Homo sapiens: one gene and its partners. The protein of the gene in region 1 purifies or fractionates together with the protein of each later gene. This does not show direct contact. Each region holds a gene or a part of one and is shown in the gene's direction. Other genes may lie near its edges. The genes, in order: ZER1, MGME1, TCP10L and CUL2.

The links.
Region 2: the proteins of ZER1 (region 1) and MGME1 purify together in Homo sapiens (co-immunoprecipitation; one large-scale study listed by IntAct). This does not show direct contact.
Region 3: the proteins of ZER1 (region 1) and TCP10L purify together in Homo sapiens (co-immunoprecipitation; one large-scale study listed by IntAct). This does not show direct contact.
Region 4: the proteins of ZER1 (region 1) and CUL2 purify together in Homo sapiens (affinity purification with western blotting; 2 studies listed by BioGRID and IntAct, with this or other methods). This does not show direct contact.

Annotation. Positions count from the first base shown.
Region 1 is NC_000009.12:128,764,279-128,769,512, reverse strand, and holds part of ZER1 (protein zer-1 homolog), read left to right. Parts: intron 1-5,234. UniProt on the Homo sapiens protein: Serves as substrate adapter subunit in the E3 ubiquitin ligase complex ZYG11B-CUL2-Elongin BC. Acts to target substrates bearing N-terminal degrons for proteasomal degradation with the first four residues of substrates being the key recognition elements.
Region 2 is NC_000020.11:17,984,811-17,989,346, forward strand, and holds part of MGME1 (mitochondrial genome maintenance exonuclease 1 isoform 2 precursor), read left to right. Parts: intron 1-3,355; coding exon 3,356-3,488; intron 3,489-4,536. UniProt on the Homo sapiens protein: Metal-dependent single-stranded DNA (ssDNA) exonuclease involved in mitochondrial genome maintenance. Has preference for 5'-3' exonuclease activity but is also capable of endonuclease activity on linear substrates.
Region 3 is NC_000021.9:32,574,691-32,579,924, reverse strand, and holds part of TCP10L (T-complex protein 10A homolog 1), read left to right. Parts: intron 1-1,093; coding exon 1,094-1,231; intron 1,232-3,001; coding exon 3,002-3,151; 3' UTR 3,152-5,234. Other genes in the region: CFAP298-TCP10L (uncharacterized protein LOC110091775), read left to right, coding at 1,094-1,231, 3,002-3,151. UniProt on the Homo sapiens protein: May be involved in transcriptional regulation. Has in vitro transcription inhibition activity. Acts as a tumor suppressor in hepatocellular carcinoma (HCC) cells.
Region 4 is NC_000010.11:35,033,584-35,038,817, reverse strand, and holds part of CUL2 (cullin-2), read left to right. Parts: intron 1-3,521; coding exon 3,522-3,646; intron 3,647-5,234.

The DNA of each region.
Region 1 (5,234 bases):
GAACCTGGGAGGTGGAGGTTGAAGTGAGCTGAGATCATGCCACTGCAGCACTCCAGCCTGGGCGACAGGAGCGAAACTCCATCTCAAAAAAAAAAAAAGAAAGAAAGAAAAGAAAAGAAAATAGGGCTGTTGGATTAGATAAAATCATGGGCTGAAGTGCTTAATGCAGTATTTCACACAAAGTGCTCAATACATAGCGGTCACGCTGATGAGGATGATGTGATGATGAGGAATGTGGGCATGTATGTCTGCCTCAGAGCCGTTCGTTTTAGCACTAGCTGGTGGTGTCACCAGCTCTAGCTGCCTCCATCAACTAGTAGGATTTGAGGAAATATTGGGGAAAGCAAGACAGAAACTTCTTGACACCCCTCAGAGGTAACTGGGTTAATATTCTGCAGAGAAGACGTTAGCTTGGTCCTGGCTTTTCTGACAGCAGCGGAGGGTGATGGGGACTTTTAAAAAAGAGCCCAGCACTGCCAGCGCTTTGGGAGGATCGCTTGAGGCCAGGAGTTTGAGACCAGTCTGGAGAACATAGGGAAACCCTATCTCTAAAAAAAAAAGAATTAAAATGAGCCCAGCAAATTTCCATTCTACCACGTAAAATAGGCAAAATGAGGGTGTTGAAATGAATGTGACTTGGAGACAGGTGGGGAGGGGCAGTGTATGCTGGGCCTAGATATGTGGTTGGAGTGTGCGTGGCTGATCTACGGGTAGAGGCTGGTGATCCGGAAGTGCCCGGCAGAGGCTGAGACTTTCCAGCCTGCTTTATAGGAAGCAGAACCACAGTTGATCTCCCTCCTTATACCCCAAGCCCGGACTATATCCTCAGGCCTGGGACACAGGCTGAGCAGGGCAACTGGGCCAGAGAATTTGAAAATGAAAGGTCAGAGCACTTAGGAGCTGAGAGCCAGCATGTTGGGGTAGGCTGTTGTGGGTAGAACCCCAGGCTGGTGACCTGCGGACCTGGTTCAAATCCCGGCTCTGCTGTTGGCTTGCTGTGTGAGTTAGGCAGGTTCCATCTCCTCTCTGGGCCTCAGTTTTCCTATTTGTAGATTAAGAATAATGGCCTTCCCTTGCCTCCGACTAACTCTAAAGGCTGTTGGGAGGATGAAATGAGACACAGCTTGTGAAAGAATTAGGTGTGTTCTGAAGCTCTCTACAAAGGTATTATCATTAGTACCACTAGGATTATGCAGACACGTTTTGGGGGCCCACTAGCTGGAAGACTGCTCTTGGCACTCTGGTTTTTTTGCTTGGCTTCAGTACCTCATCTGTTCTGGAGTCCTGAGAGGTGAGTGCAGAGACCCCTGTCTGGTTATCTATTTGTGGACCACTGTCTTATATCTGGCGCAATCGCTGAAACTGATTTTCCAGCTTCAGAGATGCAGAAGGGTCTCTTGAAGCATTATTCTCAGGAACATCACTCTTCATAATTATTGGTTACCACCTTCCTGCCATCCTTTCATGGCATCTCCTCAGCAACCCTGTTCACAACACGCGCAACACAGCGTGTGCCACTCGCAACATGCTGACAGGTAAGGACCTTGATAAATATTGAGGCTGGAAAACATTGGCTGGGGATCTTGTGGAGCCGAGGCCCTGTCACTGGCATTGAGCCACTCACATACTCTGTAATGGAGACCCCAGAAATCACATAGGGTCCCTGCCCTCAGGAAGCTTTCAATGCTGTGGCCAAAAAATGACATGCCACGGAGTGGTTACCAGCAGTACTGGATCATGTGAGCTCAGTGCCTGAGTTGTAAGGAAGCGGCGGAGGCTCGTGGAACAGAAGGGAAAGCTGAGGTTGGAGAAATGGTCCCTCCCCATAGCATAATGGCAAGGGGCTCGAACTTTAGGGTCACACACTTACCGGAGGAACAACTCATTGCTCATCTTTCAACCATTGTTTCCTTATCTGGGAAACAAAATGATAATGTATTATCATATTGATAAAATGTTATCTGTGGCAGCTGGGTGCGGTGGCTCACACCTGTAATCCAGCACTTTGGGAGGCTGAGGTGGGCGTATTGCTTGAGCCCAGGAGTTTGAGACAAGCCTGGGCAACATGGTGAGCCCTCATCGCTACAAAAAATAAAAAAATTAGCCAGGTCTGTTGGTATACGTCTGTAGTCACAGCTACTCCAGAGGCTGAGGTGGGAGATTGCTTGAACGTGAGAGGTGGAGGTTGCAGCGAGCTGAGATCGTACCACTGCACTCCAGCCTGGGTGACAGAGTGAGACCCTGTCTCTTAAAAGAAAAATAAATAAATAGGCCGACCGCAGTGGCTCACACCTGTAATCCCAGCACTTTGGGAGGCCGAGGCAGGTGGATCACCTGAGGTCAGGAGTTCGAGACCAGCCTGGCCAACATGGCAAAACCCTGTCTCTACTAAAAATACAAAAATTAGCCTGGCATGGTGGCGGGCACCTGTAATCCCAGCTACTTGGTTGGCTGAGGCAGGAGAATTGCCTGAACCCAGGAGGCAGAGGCTGCAGTGAGCCGAGATTGTGCCATTGCACTCCAGCTTGGGCAACAAGAGCAAAATTCCATCTCAAAAAAAAAAAGAAAGAAAAATAAATAAATAAATAAATAAGTTATCTGTGACTTTGATGCGAACTGCTTGGAAAGCTGGACACACTGGGTCTTTTTTTTTTTTTTTTTTTTTTTGAGACGGAATCTTGCTCTGTCACCCAGGCAGGAGTGCAGTGGTGCAATCTCGGCTCACTGCAACCTCTGCCTCCTAGGTTCAAGCGATTCTCCTGCTTCAGCCTCCTAAGTAGCTGGGATTACAGGCATCCGCCACCATGCCTGGCTAATTTTTGTATTTTTAATAGAGATGGAGTTTCACCATGTTGGCCAGGCTGGGCTCGAACTCCTGACCTCAGGTGATCCACCTGCCTTGGCCTCCCAAAGTGCTGGGATTACAGGCGTAGGCCACTGTGCCCAGCCTGACACACTGCGTCTTGAACTAATGAACTACCTGTGTACATATCTGTCTGTTCAGATCCATAGTCTCTGGCAAATTGCATAGCCATAGCCCCTTCCTTCCAGCTGCCTTTTCTGTAAGTTGTAGATGGTAACTCCTGCCTTGTTGGGTGTTGAGAGAATTCAATTAATTAACACATATAAAATACTTAACAGAGTTCTTTTTTTTTTTTTTTTTTTGAGATGGAATCTTGCTCTGTTGCCAGGCTGGAGTACAGTGGTGCAATCTTGGCTCACTGGAACCTCCACCTCCCGGGTTCAAGCAATTCTCCTGTCTCAGCCTCCTGAGTAGCTGGGACTATAGGCGCCCGCCACCACGCCCTGCTAATTTTTGTATTTTTAGTAGAGACAGGGTTTCACCATGTTGGCCAGGATGGTCTCAATCTCTTCACCTCGTGATCCGCCCGCCTTGGCCTCCCAAAGTGCTGGGATTAGAGGCGTGAGCCTCCACGCCCAGCCAGAATTCTTGGTATATACTTGGTATTCAGTATGGGTAGGATCATTAATACATTTGGTTACAAGAATAGAACCCAACCAGTCTGATTACTAGCCGAATGCAGCCTCCTCAAGGCCTCTCTGTCTCCAGCATCATGAGCAGCCACCTAGCTGTGAGGCACACTCCCCAATTATTGTGTGTCTGCATCTTTCTGACATAACCCAACTCATAGATTTAATCTCTGCAGACTTTTCAGAGCCAGGTGGCGTCTGGTTTTCACCTGTTTCCCGACCACCTGGAGATCCCCACACTTGCTGTGACTCCCCTCACACCCCCAGTCTCTGGCCCTTGATCTGCTGCCTCCTGGAAAGCGTCTAGCCTCTGTAAATAGGGCATTTGTTTGGGTTTTCCCCCCAGCTCCTAGGTTAATATTTCACAGGGTGAGTACTGCTCCAAGGCTCAGAGCTTCTGGCTCCCCCAACCTCTCTGTCCTCTGGGTATCAGGACACTGGTGGGATCCCATGCTCCCACCTCCAGACTTCAGTTTCTCTTTCCCTCCCATTGTTTGGATGGATGGACTGAAGACCAAATATTTGGTGAGAAGCGGGGGTCTGCTTTAGGTTTGCATCCCACTCTCATCAGTTTTGTGATCTCAGGCAAGCTTCTGCTTAGTTGTGTATGCGTCAGTATCTTCATCAGAAAATGGGGTAATAATCTCTATCTTGCAGTACTAGAGTAAGGGAATTCCAGCCACAGCAAACCTTTGTTCTATTAAACACCAGGCATAAATTGGGCACCGAAGTCAGACACCAAGGATACAGGTGCGTGCGCGCTTGCGCACGTGTGTGTGTGTGTGTGTGTGTGTGTGTGTGTGTGTGTACATGTGCATGGATGCAGGCATGCAAGCAAGCATACAGCTTCTGTCCTCCCAGAGCTCACAGGCAGTAGGAGGGTGTCAGTTGACAAATTGTTATGTAAATGATTAATTAGTTGCAAGTACAGGGTACTAGGAAATATTTTGTCGGTTGAGTAAGAGACTCGAGGGAGTAAAGCCTGTAAGGAGCTTAGGACCACATCTGGAAGCAGCCAACATGGACGTGGTATGGCGGTGCCTTCTGCTGCTGCTGCTGCTGGTGCTGTTTTTCTCTCTCTTCTCTCCCACTTCCTTCATTCCCCAGGATGTCGAATGTTCATGATAGACCTAGTATTAGAGAACATGCAAGAAAAGGGATGGAGAAAGACACAGGGTTCTCCCAGTGTGGTGGTCGGTCATAACCAGAGCTCCCTCTGTCCTCAGTTGCTGGAATTCCAGATGGCCTGTGACTGCCCTGAGAATGACAATCCCTAAGGAATGGAGTAGGTAGAGTGGAGTAGGTAGAGATGGCTGCCTCTGGCAGGTGCCAGGCCCGCAGCTGGATGGGTCTCAGGGCATGGTAGCCCCGGGGCCCTTCAGTCTCTGTGCCAGGATGTAAGATGGCTGCTTCCTCTTCCAGCTCATTCCAGCCCTGAGTGGCAAGGTCAACACTGCTAAGGGGAGGCTAGCAGATGGCGCCATCTACCTGGCTTATGTTTTGGGGGCTTTTGGTGACCGTGACAACTGACGTGGTGGTGTTTCTTCCACTTGGGGAGCATGGTAAGGGCAGAGCAGCTGCCTAGGTAACTGGGCTCAGACCTGCAGAAAAGGCAAAACCCCAGTGGCTCTCCCTCATTCAGAGCCTCCGAGCCAAGAGGCATCATTTGCAGCCACTGGGCGCCCAGCAGTGTCCTGAGTGCAGCAAGCAGGGAGAATGCGAGAGTGTACTATACCTCCCAG
Region 2 (4,536 bases), on another chromosome or scaffold:
GGACCACTTGAGGTCAGGAGTTCGAGACCAGCCTAGGCAACACGATGAAACTCCGTCTTTGCTACAAATGCAAAAAATTACCCGGGTGTGGTGGCACATGCCTGTAATCCCAGCTAGTCTGGAGGCTGAGGTAGGAAGATTGCTTGAACCCGGGAGGTGGGGGTTGCAGTGAACCAAGGTTGCACCACTGCACTCCAGCCTGGGTGACAGAGCAAGACTTTGTCTCAAAAAAAAAAAAAAAAAAAAAGAAAAGGAAAATATTTCTGTATAGTTGTACGATGTGTTTGTTTTAAGATAAGTATTATTACAAGAGTCAATAAATTAAAGAAGTGGCCGGGCATGGTGGCTCATGCCTGTAATCCCAGCACTTTGGGAGGCCAAGGTGGGTGGATCACCTGAGGTCAGGGGTTTGAAACCAGCCTGGCCAAAATGGCAAAACCCCATCTCTGCTAAAAATACAAAATTAGCCAAGCGTGGTGGTGCATGCCTGTAATCCCAGCTATTTGGGAGGCTGAGGCAGGAGAATCGCTTGAACCTGGGAGGTGGAGGTTGCAGTGAGCCAAAATTGTGCCATTGCACTCCAGCCTGGGCAACAAGAGTGAAACACCATCTCAAAATAATTAAAGAAGTTTATACAGTAAAAAAGTTACAGTAAGCTAAAGTTAATGTATTATTGAAGAAAGAAAAACGTTTTTTATAAATTTAGTGTAGCGTAAGTGTACAGTGTTTATAAAGTCTATAGTAGTATACAGTAATGTCCCAGGCCCTCACATTCACTCACCGCTCACTCACTCAATCACCCAGAGCAACTTCTAGTCCTGCAAGCTGCATTCGTGGTAGGTGCCCTATACAAGTATACTGTTTTTTATCTTTTATACCACATTTTTACTGTACCTTTTCTGTGTTTAGATGCACTAATGCTTACCATTGTGTTATAGTTGCCAGCAGTATTCAGTACAGTAACATGCTGTACAGGTTTGTAGCCTAGGAGCAAAGGTCTGGGTGTGTAGTAGGCTATCCTACCTAGGTTTGTGTAATATACTCTATGTTTGCACAATGACAAAATTGCCTAACCATGCATTTCTCAGGACATATCCCTGTCATTAAGCTACACATGACTGTACTTTGAAATCAGGCAGTGTGATGCCTCCGACTTCATTCTTTTCACTCAAGATTGCTTTGGCTATTCGGAGTCTTTTGTGGTTCCGTGTTAATTTTAGGATTTTTTTTTTTCTATTTCTGTGAAAAATGATGTTGGAATTTTTTTTTCTTTTTGAGACAGAGTTTCACCCTTGTCGCCCAGGCTGCAGTGCAATGGCACAGTCTCAGCTCACTGCAACTTCTGCCTCCCAGGTTCAAGTAATTCTCCTGCCTCAGCCTCCCGAGTAGCTGGGATTACAGGGGCACATCACCACGCCTGGCTAATTTTTGTATTTTTAGTAGAGACGAGGTTTCACCATGTTGGCCAGGCTGGTCTGGAGCTCCTGACCTCAGGTGATCTGCCCACCTTGGCCTCCCAAAGTGCTGGGATTACAGGTGTAAGCCACCGTGCCCGGCAGAATTTTTTTTTTTTCTTTTTTCCTGAGACAGGGTCTGGCTTTGTTACCCACGCTGTTGTGCAGTGGTGCAATCTCGGCTCACTGCAAACTCCACCTCCTGGGCTCAGCCTCCTGAGTAGCTGGGACAACAGGCTCCAGCCACAACACCTGGCTGATTTTTTGGTATTTTTTATAGAGACAGGGTTTCACCATGTTGCCCAGGCTGGTCTCGGGCTCCTGAGCTCAAGCAGTCCACCTGCCTTGGCCTCCCAAAGTGCTGGAGATTACAGGTGTGAGCCATCACACCTGGCCTGCCATTGGAATTATGATAAAGATTGCGTGGAACCTATAGATTGCTTTGGATAGTATGGACATTTTAACAATATTCTTCCAGTCCATAAACAGAGGATATCTTACCATTTATTTGTATCATTTTCAGTTTCTTTCATCAATATTTTATAGTTTTCAGAATGCTATTAAGGTTTTTTTTTTTACATTTATTAAGTTCTACAATTACAGTACATTGCTGCAAACAGTGTTCTGTGGCAGAAATATAACATGGTGGCTCACACCTGTAATCCCAGCAGTTTGGGAGGCCAAGGCGGGTGGATCACTTGAGGTTAGGAGTTGAAACCAGCCTGGCCAATAGGGCGAAACCCCATCTCTACTAAAAATACAAAAATTAGCTGGGCGAGGTGGCGCACACATGTAATGCCAGCTACTCAGGGGGCTGAGGCAGAAGAATAGCTTGAACCCAGGAGGCGGAGGTTGTGGTAAGCCGAGATTACACCACTGCACTCCAGCCTGAGTGAGACTCCATCTAAAAAAAAAAAAAAAAAAAGAAGAACCAGGAATGGCATCCTAGAGTTACTGGGGCCCTTTTCTCAACTACACAGATTGTCAAACTTGGCAATATTACAAAACAATTCTGAAGACAATAAAATTATCTCTAAACCTAAACTGTCCAGTAGAGTAGCCACTAACCCCTATAGCTATTGAGCATTTGAATGTGGTCAGGCCAAACTAAGGTGTGCTATAGCAATATACAAACTACATTTCAATGACTTTGTACAAAAAAGAATGTAAAATATCCCTATAATAAAAAAAAGACGTAAAATATCCCATTAATCATTTGTTAGTTGATTACATGTTGAAATGATATTTTGGATATGTTGGGTTAAGTAAAATGTTAAAATTTCAGCTGTATTTTTTTTTTCTTTTCCGATGTGGCTACTAGAAAATTTAAAATGACACATGGCTCACATTTTACTTCTTTTAGCCAGTGCTGCTCTAGACTGAGTTTGCATGAGGTGTAACTGTCTAGAGCTATAGTGACATGTAAGTAATATACATGCTTTGTACAAAATCTCCCTATAAACTGCTGATTTTGAAATTGAAGTCATGAAAGACAGATTGAACCGATAGAGTCCTTTGAGAGTCACCAGTTACTGGTCCACTCTCTGTATCCTTTTGATATTTGCATTTGGCAAGTATAAACCCGACCAGGATAGGGGATGGGGGGAGGAATCCACTGGTTATTTGATGCAAAAAAAGAGGGAGAAAAAGTGGGGGGGTGCACTTATAGTCCCAGCTACTTGGGAGGCTGAGGTGGGAGGATCACTTGAGCCCAGGAGTATGCGTTTAGCCTGGGCAACATATGAAACCCCATCTCTTTTTTAAAAAAGGAAAAAAATGGTGAATAAGAGCAATGGTCATTGGCTGACAAGTAACAAACTATACATAAGAGAACTGTTAACCTAGTAGAGATTTTCATTGTGATCTATTACCTACAAAGTCTTCCTGTGGTTTCTCTTTAGGGGCAAGCTCTGTGTGATTGATTGGAAGACATCAGAGAAACCAAAGCCTTTTATTCAAAGTACATTTGACAACCCACTGCAAGTTGTGGCATACATGGGTGCCATGAACCATGATACCAACTACAGCTTTCAGGTCAGGACACTGAGCCTTTACTTAAAGCTTTGCTCAATGCTTACTTAAAACTATAACTCCGGGCCGGGCGCAGTGGCTCATGCCTGTAATCCTAGCACTTTGGGAGGCCAAGGCCGGTGGATCACTTGAGGTCAGGAGTTCAAGACCAGCCTGGCCAATATGGTGAAACCCTGTCTTTACCAAAAATACAAAAACTAGCTGGGCATGGTGGCTCATGCCTGTAATCCCAGCTATTCTAGTAGCTGAGGCAGGAGAATTGCTTGAACCCGCGAGGTGGAGGTTGTAGTGAGCCAAGATTGCGCCACTACACTCCAGCCTGGGCAAGAGAGTGAGACTCCATCTCGAATCTGTCTCAAAAAAAAAAAAAAAAACTTCTCAGTGGGGGGGTAGGAGGAGAAAAATTGTAAAAAAAAAAAAAGTTAAAAAATAGAACTCCTTGAGGTTTTTCCTTTTTTAATCTCTATTTTTATCCCATTGCTTAACGTCTTCCTTGTTCCTTTCCCACTTAAAAAAGCACTTTTTGGCTGGGCACAGTGGCTCACGCACTTTGGGAGGCCGAGGCAGGCAGATTGCTTGTGCTCAGGAGTTTGAGTCCAGCCTGGGCAACATAGTGAAACCCCGTATCTACAAAAAAAATACAAAAATTAGCTGGACATGGTGGCGCACACTTGTGCCAGCTACTTGGGAGGCTGAGGTGGGAGGATTGCTTGAGCCCAGGAAGTGGAGGTTCCAGTGAGCCGAGATTGTACCACTGCACTCTAGCCTGGCCGACAGAGCAAAACCCTGTCTCAAAAATAAATAAATAGGCCAGGTGTGGTGGCCCAAGCCTATAATTCCAGCACTTTGGGAGGCCGAGTTGGGCAGATCACCTGATGTCAGGAGTTCAAGACCAGCTTGGCTGACATGGCGAAACCCTGTCTCTACTAAAAATACAAAAATTAGCTGGGCGTGGTGGTGTGTGCCTCTAGTCCCACCTACTTGGGAGGCTGAGGCAGGAGAATCGCTTGAACCCAGGAGGCGGAGGTTGCGGTGAGCCAAGGTTGTTCCA
Region 3 (5,234 bases), on another chromosome or scaffold:
AGCAGAAGCTGGGCAGGCTGTTCCTCTGTCAGAGGAAGAGTGGGGGAAATTGCCACAAATACTGGCCGGGATTGTCCACCTTCTGTGGGGAGAACCCAAGAAGACTCACAGGGATTTTTTTCCCTACATATATTGTATGCCAGTTCCTAAAAAATAGTATCTACTGCCCCATTTGGGTCATTGTATAACAATTACCCTAAGAGTCAATGAAGTCTTATTCAGTCTTCACATGCCCTGCAGTTTTGATCATTCTCTTATTTTGAGATTAGAGCTTGGTGAATTTCCAAATATTTTTCCATTCTGTGCATTGCACTGGTCACCGTGGGGCTATTTATAAGAACAGGATGTACGCTCACAAGAGCATACCTGATTTGAAGAAACAGGATGGGATATGTGAATCCCACACTTTAAATATGCGAAGGTGTATCTGTGTGTAGTCGCCGTTTTAGGGACTGAATATCTAAAAGGCTGAGACTCGAGCACCCACAGAACGCGGGCATGGCTGTGTGGGTGAGCCACTCTGGATCTGATATTAAGGGTTCGTTCATAGCAACCCTCTCCCCTTCTCATTCCCTTCTCCTCCTCAGAGGGCAGAACGGTGAATAATTTAGCATTCCAGACCTAATATACCTCATCCCACCTGAAGGATCACCCTGTTCCAGGTCAGTCTGCTGATAACAGGGAAAGTTGGGAATTTGCATTTTGGATCTTAGACAAGTTGTAGAGACAACACTAGAAGTAGTATCACATTTTCTTCCTCCGTTAACACACTCCCGGTTGAAGACACAGGAGCCTAAAGGAAGATATGTTGGGGATTGTTTGTTCTGTAGCCTTTGGGATCCTGTGATCATTTTGAAACAAGGAACCACAATAAGAAACACAAAGCAAACATCGGCTCCACAAAGGTTCCTTCACAAACGCTTGGTGAGGGTTTCTGTTCTTATCAACATATTAGGGGGAAAACCCAGTCCAAGTCCCCCTACCTTGTACCCTATTTTTTTCTAGGACATTCCAATTATTCTTCATTGTATTAAAATTTGAATTTATTTTACCTTCGAAAATGTGAAGAATTTCCCTGCATTTTGTCTTTTAGGCATTGGAACCTGCTTTTGGAAAAATTTCACCTCTGTCAGCTGATGAAGAGACAATACCCAAATACGCTGGCCACAAGAATCAGAGTGCCACTCTCCTGGGACAAAGATCGTCATCTAACAATTCAGCTCCTCCAAAGGTGACCCTTTGTGCTTATCATCTGTAAAGAGAAGCAGAGGTTCTGTACCCAAACACACACATCCCATCAGCTCCTCACCACACAATTTCACCTCCCTGGGTGAGCATGGTGCTCCCTGGAGTCCTGTGTTCTTCCAAGGACACGGGTACATGCCTTTCAAACAAGATCCTAACCCTTAGCACTTCTTGCTGTGGAGCAGATTCCAAGTCCTCCCGGCTGCTTCCCTCTGAGTACACTCACAGCAGCAAGCGTCTGGCTGGGGCCGAGGGGACTTGGGGGCTTTGTTTCCGTGGGTGCAGGCTGCGGAGGTGATGTGTGTGGCACTGTCTCCACCCGTGAGTCTGAGGGCTCGCAGCCTCCCGTGCTCCCTGCTTCTGCACTGCGGTCTTGCACCTGCTGCTTGTCGGCGTGGACTCCTCTGAACAGGGGTGGCGCTGTTAGCTTGGGAGCCACAGTACAGGATGCTATTTTGTCTCTTGTTGGGAATAGGCCCCCAGATCTGGCCATAAACTGGCCCCAAAACTGGCCACAAACAAAATCTCTGCAGCACTGTGACATGTTCGTGATGGCCATGATGCCCACGCTGAAGGTTGTGGGTTTACCAGAATGATGGCAAGGAACACCTGGCCCACCCAGGGTGGAAAACCGCTTAAAGGCGTTCTTAAACCACAAACAGTAGCATGAGCGATCTGTGCCTTAAGGACATGTTTCTGCTGTGGATATCTAGCCAGAGCCCATCCCTTTGTTTTGGCCCATCCCTTTGTTTCCCATAAGGAATACTTTTAGTTAATCTATAATCTATAGAAACAATTTATCACTGGCTTGCTGTCAATAAATATGTGGGTAAATCTCTGTTCACGGCTCTCAGCTCTGAAGGCTGTGAGTGCCCTGATTTCCCACTCCACATGCTATACTTCCGTGCGTATGTCTTTAATTCCTCTAGCACTGCTGGGTTAGGGTCTTCCTGACCGAGCTGGTCTCGGCAGTCTCTATCACATTTTTCTTTGTTAAAATTAGCTCCTCTTTAGAACATTCTCCCAGCCAGTGTGTCTCTTCCTGTCCCAGCTTTGTGTCACCCTCATACTCAGGAAGCAAATCTCGTGAGTCCACAGCCAGCAACTGATACTGGGTTGATGTGGATGGAGAAGGCGCCCCCAACTCCTGAAGATGATTTATCCCCTCGCATTCTTTCCCAAAGCAACTGCTGAGCAGATAACACTTTATTCCCTGAAGGAAGATCAGAAATCTACTCCAAGCATTTGTCACAAGTAGGAAAAGAGCCTTTTCAGATCCTATGAGTACAAAACATCGTAAGTCCCAGGGTGGACTGCACAGGCCCAGCCTCCTGTGAGACGCGGACTTCTCTCATGCTCCATCATTGACCTGAGTTAATCACAGGCATGCGGGGCAATGTACGAGTAAATAGATAACTGAATGGGTGGCTTATCCACGCCTTGAAACCATCAATTGTTAAATAGTGCAAAATGTAGAAAATTATTTTTATTATGCATTTTTGAATTGAGTTTCAAGCACTTTATTTCACTGTTGACTTTACAATATCAGCCATGTATTGGAATCCCAAATTTCACAAGAGCGTGGGCTGTAAAATGGGGAATGAGAGACACTAAGTGTGGATACCTCATGTGTCCTTCTGTAGGAAGGGGGAGTAGAATCATCTACATTCTGTGATAGCTGGTATGATGTGTTGCTTAACATTTAAAAATAATATAATTGTTACTAATGCAAAAATATTCCCACATTTGTTTTCAGCCAATGAGTTTAAAGATAGAAAGAATTAGCTCGTGGAAAACACCACCACAGGAAAATAGAGATAAAAATCTTTCCAGGAGACGTCAAGACAGAAGAGCAACACCTACTGGAAGGCCAACTCCCTGTGCAGAGAGACGGGGGGGTGTCTGAAGATGGAAAGGTGGCCTCGGACACCTGTGTCACTCTACACTGGCCCCTTGGAAAATTCAGATTCAGATAAAGTTCCACTTAGGTCTAATAAAAGTACTCAATTTGTTATTCAAAATAGACCTAGTAATTTATTAAACTAATTATGTTTCTATAGATAAAAACTTGAAGTTCTTCAGACATGTCTCTAATGCTATAAAAGCAAACAACTTGGATTGGGTTTTATAAATCAGTTGCTTTCCTGAGCTCTGTAGTTGGTATATTTCTGCAGAGTCTTTAAAAAAATTAACCCACCTTGTAGTATGGAGTGTCGGGCTGTTGGGTGAGCCCTGGGGTCTTGCTGGAAATCGAGGATGGCTGAAGATGGCTTTGTGCTCCCAGCCTTTGGGCTCAAGGCATTGCCCGCTCCAGGGACCTTGTGACAAGGCGGGCCTGTGACTGTCATTGCCCCAGGCTATGCATCCATCTTCCCGAAGTCTGCAAAACTTGAGTGGCAGAAAATCACCAGTGCAGGCTTCCCAGGCCGCCATGCTGCAGGAGCAGATGGCAGCAGCCGGAGGAGCTGGTGAGCAGAGTTGGGGACTCCTGTTTCTATGCTCCCCGTGAAATGCGGGGCTTTCTCGTGGATACGCGTGAGCAGAACATCTTACTATGGCAAGGACATGTCCTTCCTGGAGCTGCCTAATTTGTGGCCACTTTTTGTCTGATTCCCTCGTTGGGTCCTCACCTGTGAGACTTGCCAACACCCCCAGCCCTCCACCCCACACACAGCCCACATGCCGGTCTCCAGGGGCCGTGACTGGAGATTCCGAATCCTAGCGGTCACTTCCCTCTGAGCACACTCCCAGCAGAAGGCGTGTGGCTGGGGCTAGATGCACTTGGGTGCTTTGTTCCCCTTTCTCCATTTGCCAGCCCATGGCATTGCTGCCACCCTGATGGAGCGCCCTCTCATCTGGCACCTTCCTGGCCTCTTTCCCAGGCCCCAGTTCTGTCCATGCAGCTGTGGGTGCTTCCTGCATTGCGGGTCTCACGGGGAGGAGACGAGAGTGCCCCTGGTTGAGTCAGGAAAGAATTCTATCTTCACGTCGCTGCCAGCAAATGACCACAGCAGCTTCACGACCTCTGCAGGAACCTATCTTGGTAAAGAAACGGGGCCTATGTGGTGGCCGAGCCTCAGGTGTGGCCGAGCTTCAGGTGTGGCCCTTATGCACAGCACAGCCCAAGCCTGTGGGCACCACTCGCCCTGGGCTGCCTGGCACCTGGACTCCTTCCCATCCTTGGCCGAGGTCTGCGTGGCCCTTCAGGGCCGAATCTGACACTGTCTTCCTCCTGAGTCTGCCCCCCGGGCTTCCTGCCCACCCCCAGGCTGTTTCATGGCCTCTGCAGGGAGCTTCGTAGAGGTGAGGCTGGTGCCATCTGTCTGCTTCAGACCACCTCAGGCTCTGCGTGCCCTCACAGTCCCCTCTGCACTTCTCTGTGGGGCAGGGAAGCCCTTCCCATCAGGTCTGCTCCAGCCTGGCTACCTTGTTCCTGCTGTCCCCTCCCCTTCAGGCCCCCGGACAAGACTTCAGTGTACTTGCTGGTGCCGGGCAGAATGGGGGACCTTGCCTCTCACACACACCTGCTAGTATCTCCGCAACCTCCAGGCATCATCTCAGCTGACAGTGACGCCATCCTGGGGAAGCTCCCCTGACTCCTGGCTCTCCTGGAAGCCTGTGGTGCTCCTTCACAATGGCCCGTGGCCCTTCATAGGTCCCGTAAGCCAGTGTCACAGGGATTCGGCTTTTCTCTTCTGTGTTTGCCTGCTGCGGGACTGTGAGCAGCTTCAGGGCCAAGACAGTGCCTTTCCATCCGTGAATCTCCTGATCCATCAGAATACTCGAAAGAGAAATACCGACTGAGTGTATTCATTAAAGAATTAATGTTCCTTACAGGATCATTTGTTGTTGAACTGACCTGACATGTGTATAGTAATCTCATGAACAAGAAAGAATGTGTTCACACGTTTGCTTAAATTGAATTTAGCAATCGCATTAGGATACTGATATTTCCACAATGTATATACACTATCCTTTTAAATTTAACT
Region 4 (5,234 bases), on another chromosome or scaffold:
AAATATTTTAAATAACCTTTTACAGATTATTAATACTTTATTTTGAAAGACTATTTTAGGAAAGTGTTTTCAGAGTGTTCTAAAATCAGAAGAAAAAGTGGGAAATTGTGTTTATACATTTTTATATATTACAAGAGCTAATTTCCTTAATGCATTTAGAATTCCTGATAAACAGTAGGAATAAAGGCAAAGACTATAAAAAGGAAATACAAATATTATGTAATAAATGTAATAATTTATATAATATAAAAAATCAGCTATATCTGATTTTTTTTTTTTTTTTTTTTTTTTTGAGACAGAGTCTCACTCTGTCGCCCAGGCTGGAGTGCAGCGGCGTGCTCTTGGCTCGCTGCAACCTCCGCCTCCCAGATTCAAGTGATTCTCCTGCCTCAGACTCCTGAGTAGCTGGGATTACAGGCGCTCATCACCACACCTGGCTAATTTTTTTGTACTTTTAGTAGAGACAGGGTTTCACCATGTTGGTCAGGCTGGTCTCGGACTCCTGACCTTGTGGTCCGCCCGCCTCAGCCTCCCAAAGTGCTGGGATTACAGGCGTGAGCCACTGCGCCCGGCCTCTCTGATTTTTAAAAAAACAAAAAACATGCATTACTTTTATAGGCAGGAAAGATAATAAATATGTATATTTTATTTAATTAATTAATTTTTTTGAGATGGAGTCTCGCTCCGTCGCCCAGGCTGGAGTGCAATGGCATGATCTTGGCTCATTGCAACCCCTGCCTCCCAGGTTCAAGCAATTCTGCCTCAGCCTCCCAAGTAGCTGGGATTGCAGGTGTGTGCCATCACATCCAGCTAATTTTTGTATTTTTAGTAGAGACGGGGTGTCACCATGTTGGCCTCCTGGTCTTGAGCTCCTGACCTCAGATAATCTGCTTGCCCCGGCCTCCCGAAGTGCTGGGATTACAGGTGTGAGTCACCGCGCCCGGCCATTAATCAGGCTTTTTGTTTTTGTTTTTTGAGACGGAGTCCCGCTCTGTGGCCCAGGCTATAATGCAGTGGCGCGATCTCTGTTCACTATAACCTCTGCCTCCTGGGTTCAAGCGATTCTCCTGCCTCAGCCTCCTGAGTAGCTGGGACTACAGGCATCCGCCCCCACACCTGGCTAATTTTTGTATTTTTAGTAGAGACGAGGTTTCACTATGTTGGCCGGCTGGTCTCGAACTCCTGAGCTCGTGATCCACCTGCCTTGGCCTCCCAAAGTGCTGGGATTATAGACACGAGCCACCACCCTTGGCCCCGTGTTTTTTACAGCAACATTAATTTCATAGATCCAGGGCAATGTAGTCAAAACCCAATAATTTCATTTTAATTCCGAAAGTCACTGTCTTGAAGAGTATGATGGAAAGACTTTAATGACCAGCAAGACTTATTGTAAAACCTATAGTAATTAAGACAGTGAGGCATTGGTACAAGGACAGACAGATATCCTAATAAAATAAGAGATCCTAGAAACAACCCAAGCATATGTGGCCACTTGATGTAAGACCAAGGTGGCGCTGCAGAGCGGCAGGTAAAAGATGGTCTTTTCAACACGCATTGCTCAGTCAATTGGATATCCATTTCAGAAGAAAATGAAATTTGATCACTACCTCAAGATACCATATACAAAATCAATTCACTATTGAGTTTTTTCTCTAAATGTACAAGGTAAAAAAATAACACTTCTAGAAGATAATATAGAAGAATATCTTCATAACCTTGAGACAGGGAAAGATATTTTAAATAGGACACAAAAAGCCCTAACCACAAAGGAACGATTGATCCAGTGAACTACATTAAAATGAAAAACTTTGGATTATTAAAAGGCCATTAAGAGGGAGGAAGATTGCTTGAGCTCAGGAGTACAAGACCAGCCTGGGCAACATGACAGTATCCCATCTCTGCAAAAAAATACAAGCATTAGCCAGGCGGGGTGGTGTGCACCTGTGGTCCCATCTACTTGGGAGGCTGAGGTGGGAGGATCACTTGAATCTGGGAGGTGGTGGTTGCAGTGAGCCGAGATCCTGCCACTGCACTCCAGCCTGGGTGACAGAGTAAGACCCTGTCTCAAAAAAAGCCATTAAAACCACTGGATCATCAGAAGACAGTTATAGGGTAATGTACCTGCAATACTAAAGATTTATATCCAAAATATAAAATGCTCAAAAAACAGGCACTGCAGAATAGAAGATACCCAGATGGCCAATAAACATAGAAAGAAGTGTGAAGTAGCAGGAACTTGTTGAACACTGAAGTGAGAGTATAAATTGATGCAACTACTTTGGGAAACTGGCACTGACCGCTAAGTGGGATATATTATGCATATTTTATGATCCAGCAGTTCTCCTAAACATATAACCACCCCCCAGCTTTACCTCCCCACTGCCAATGCCTGGACATATATACAAAAAGACATACAGGAATGTTCATAGTAGTGTTTGTAATAGCTCCATAAACTGGAACAGCTCAAATGTCCAGTTACTGTAGAATAGTACAGTATATTCATACAATGGAATATTATAGAGGAGTGGAAATGAACAAATTAAAGCCATGCACAACAACATAGATGATCCTTATACACATGTTGAACACAAGAAGCCAGACACGAAAGAATTGTGTGATCCCATTTTTATACGTAGTTCAAACTCATCTGTGATTTAGAAGTCACAGCAGTGGTTACCTTTGCAGAGGAGCAAGAGTGTGTGATTGGAAGGAGGCATGAAGGGGACTCCTGGGTGTAGGTAATGCCTGTTTCTTATCCTGCGTGTGATTACATGGGTGTGTTGTGTGTTCACTTGTGATAATTCAGTAAGATATACACTTATGGTTTGTATACTTTTCTGTATATGTATGATGCTTTAATGAAACGTTTAAAATTAAACCTACTACACTGAGAGATCATTATTCACCTCCCAGTGTTAGAGATCAAAACATTTGGCAACACATTGTTGGCAAAGGAACTCTCTGCTGTTGGCAGCTGTGGTTAGAAGGATCTGTCTACAAGATTAAACTTTGACACAGTAACCTCACTTTTGGGAACTTATATTGCATATATTCTTGCTCATGTATAAGATTATTGATTGCAACATTGCAATATCAAGAGACTGGAAACCACCTAAATTTCCATCAGTTGTTAAGAAATTATATCCACATAATGGAGTACTGTGCAGCTGTAAAATACATAGAAATGCTTTGTGTACTGATAGGAAAAGACCACTAAGTTAAAATGTGTTCTGAAGCTACAAATAATATACAAAATACAGTACACTGTATTAAAAGGGGCAAAGGGAAGAATATATGTATTCACTTGAATTTGCACAAAATATCTTTGGGAAGATGTTAAATAACCACATCCCTTTCCTGTGGGGAGAGGGGCTTGGGTGGCTGGGAGGTGGGCATGGGGGACTTTTCTCTGGGTGCTCTGCACTTGGATCCGTATATTGTACTCCTGCACTTGGATCCATATATTACCTAATAAATGAAAATATTTGGGAGTTAACCCTCAGATGTCTTTTTCCTCTCAGACATGGCAAATATGTACGTCTTACTCCGTGCTGTGTCCACTGGTTTACCTCATATGATTCAGGAGCTGCAAAACCACATCCATGATGAGGGCCTTCGAGCAACCAGCAACCTTACTCAGGAAAACGTGAGTTGTGTGGGAAACTGCAATGTTTTCCTCCTAATCAGATCCAGCGTGGAGCCTTTCCTTTGACTTTATTGTTTTGAAAGATGAAAGAAAAAGTCTTACCATGCCAACGAAAGAAATGTCTTTATTCAAATGTTTTAAACCTAGAATTTGTTGGACTCATTTTGGAATTATCAGATTATTAGAAAGCTATTGATAGGCTGCTGCTTAGCCATACGGAGGGTGTCCATTGAACAGTTGTTAACTTTCCACAGGAAAATAAGCTCGCCATTTTTAAATAACTGTGTTTTTGTGTAATTGGCATTGATAACGTAGTTTGTTGTCATGGTAGTAGTATTAATCAGTGGTAATATAGACGACTTGCAATTTGCCTCCTTTCCATATCCTCTGAATTTGGTTGTCCAGGAAGCAAATTTAGATTAAAATAATCTTCTGTAAGTATATGCTTGCTGCCCCAAATACCCAAAACAATAACCCTCATATCCCTAATACTCATCTTTCTCGAATACTTTGCCAATCACATGACTGTAACAGTTTGTACTGTAACAGTTTGTCTTTCCCATCACCAAATCTTGTTATTACTGGTAATGTTTGATGAGCAAGAGAGAAATAACTTCAAATGTTACTGTCTCTTCTTAAGTAGAGCTGTTTGCCCTTCATCTATAAGATAGTATCTGTGTATAGACGTCACTGTTCAGGAGCACTTTTTAGAGGCTGTTACCTTAGCTGCAGATTGGTTTTTGGCAAGTAATAATTTTTAGTTTTTATGTTATGCCACAATAATGTGTAAGTTTTCTATTTTTTTATTTCTTCAAATTCCCTTTACCACAGTTTTCTATTTTTTGTAGAACTATTAGTTTATAGTATTCAGGTTTATTACTCTATTATTTGTCAAACTTACTAGTTTACATTATTACGTTTATAGATTCCATGTCCAATGACATTGGGCATAGAAGCATCGAATTTTGTGTCAAGGCTGGGAGATGGAAACATAAGTGAATACATTTGTGGTAGACTCAAATCCAACTGACTTAGTTAAGTCTTAGGTAGTAACTTCTTCATGGTTATCTCCATTAAGAGGGAAAACTCACTTTTGTACTATTAGGTATTTCTTCTCTCTGAGATGTGAGGGATTGTCTTGCCGAGTTCAAGGGGTCTCTGTTCTCAGGATTATTGGCTTTTTAACTCTCCTTTCTCTCAGCCTTTAGTGACTTTGCAGGCAGTCTTTGCTTATTTAAGCCTCTATGAAAGTGATAGACCTGGTAGTTCAGGTCTTGTTATCCTTAAGATAAGTTATTCCAACACAGTAGAAAAGTATGCTTTTGGTGGGTTCTTCTGACAGGTACTAGACAGTCTATGACAGCTTGTTGTGTTGAATGACAAGCTATTTTCTTTCTTCCTTTTTTTTTTTTTTTGTTGTTGTTGTTGTTTTTCTGAGACGGAGTCTCACTCTGTCGCCCAAGCTGGAGTGCAGTGGTGCGATCTCTGCTCACTGCAACCTCCACCTCCCTGGTTCCAGCAGTTCCCCTGCCTCAGCCTCCCGTGTAGCTGGGATTACAGGTGGACGCCACCACGTCTGGCTAATTTT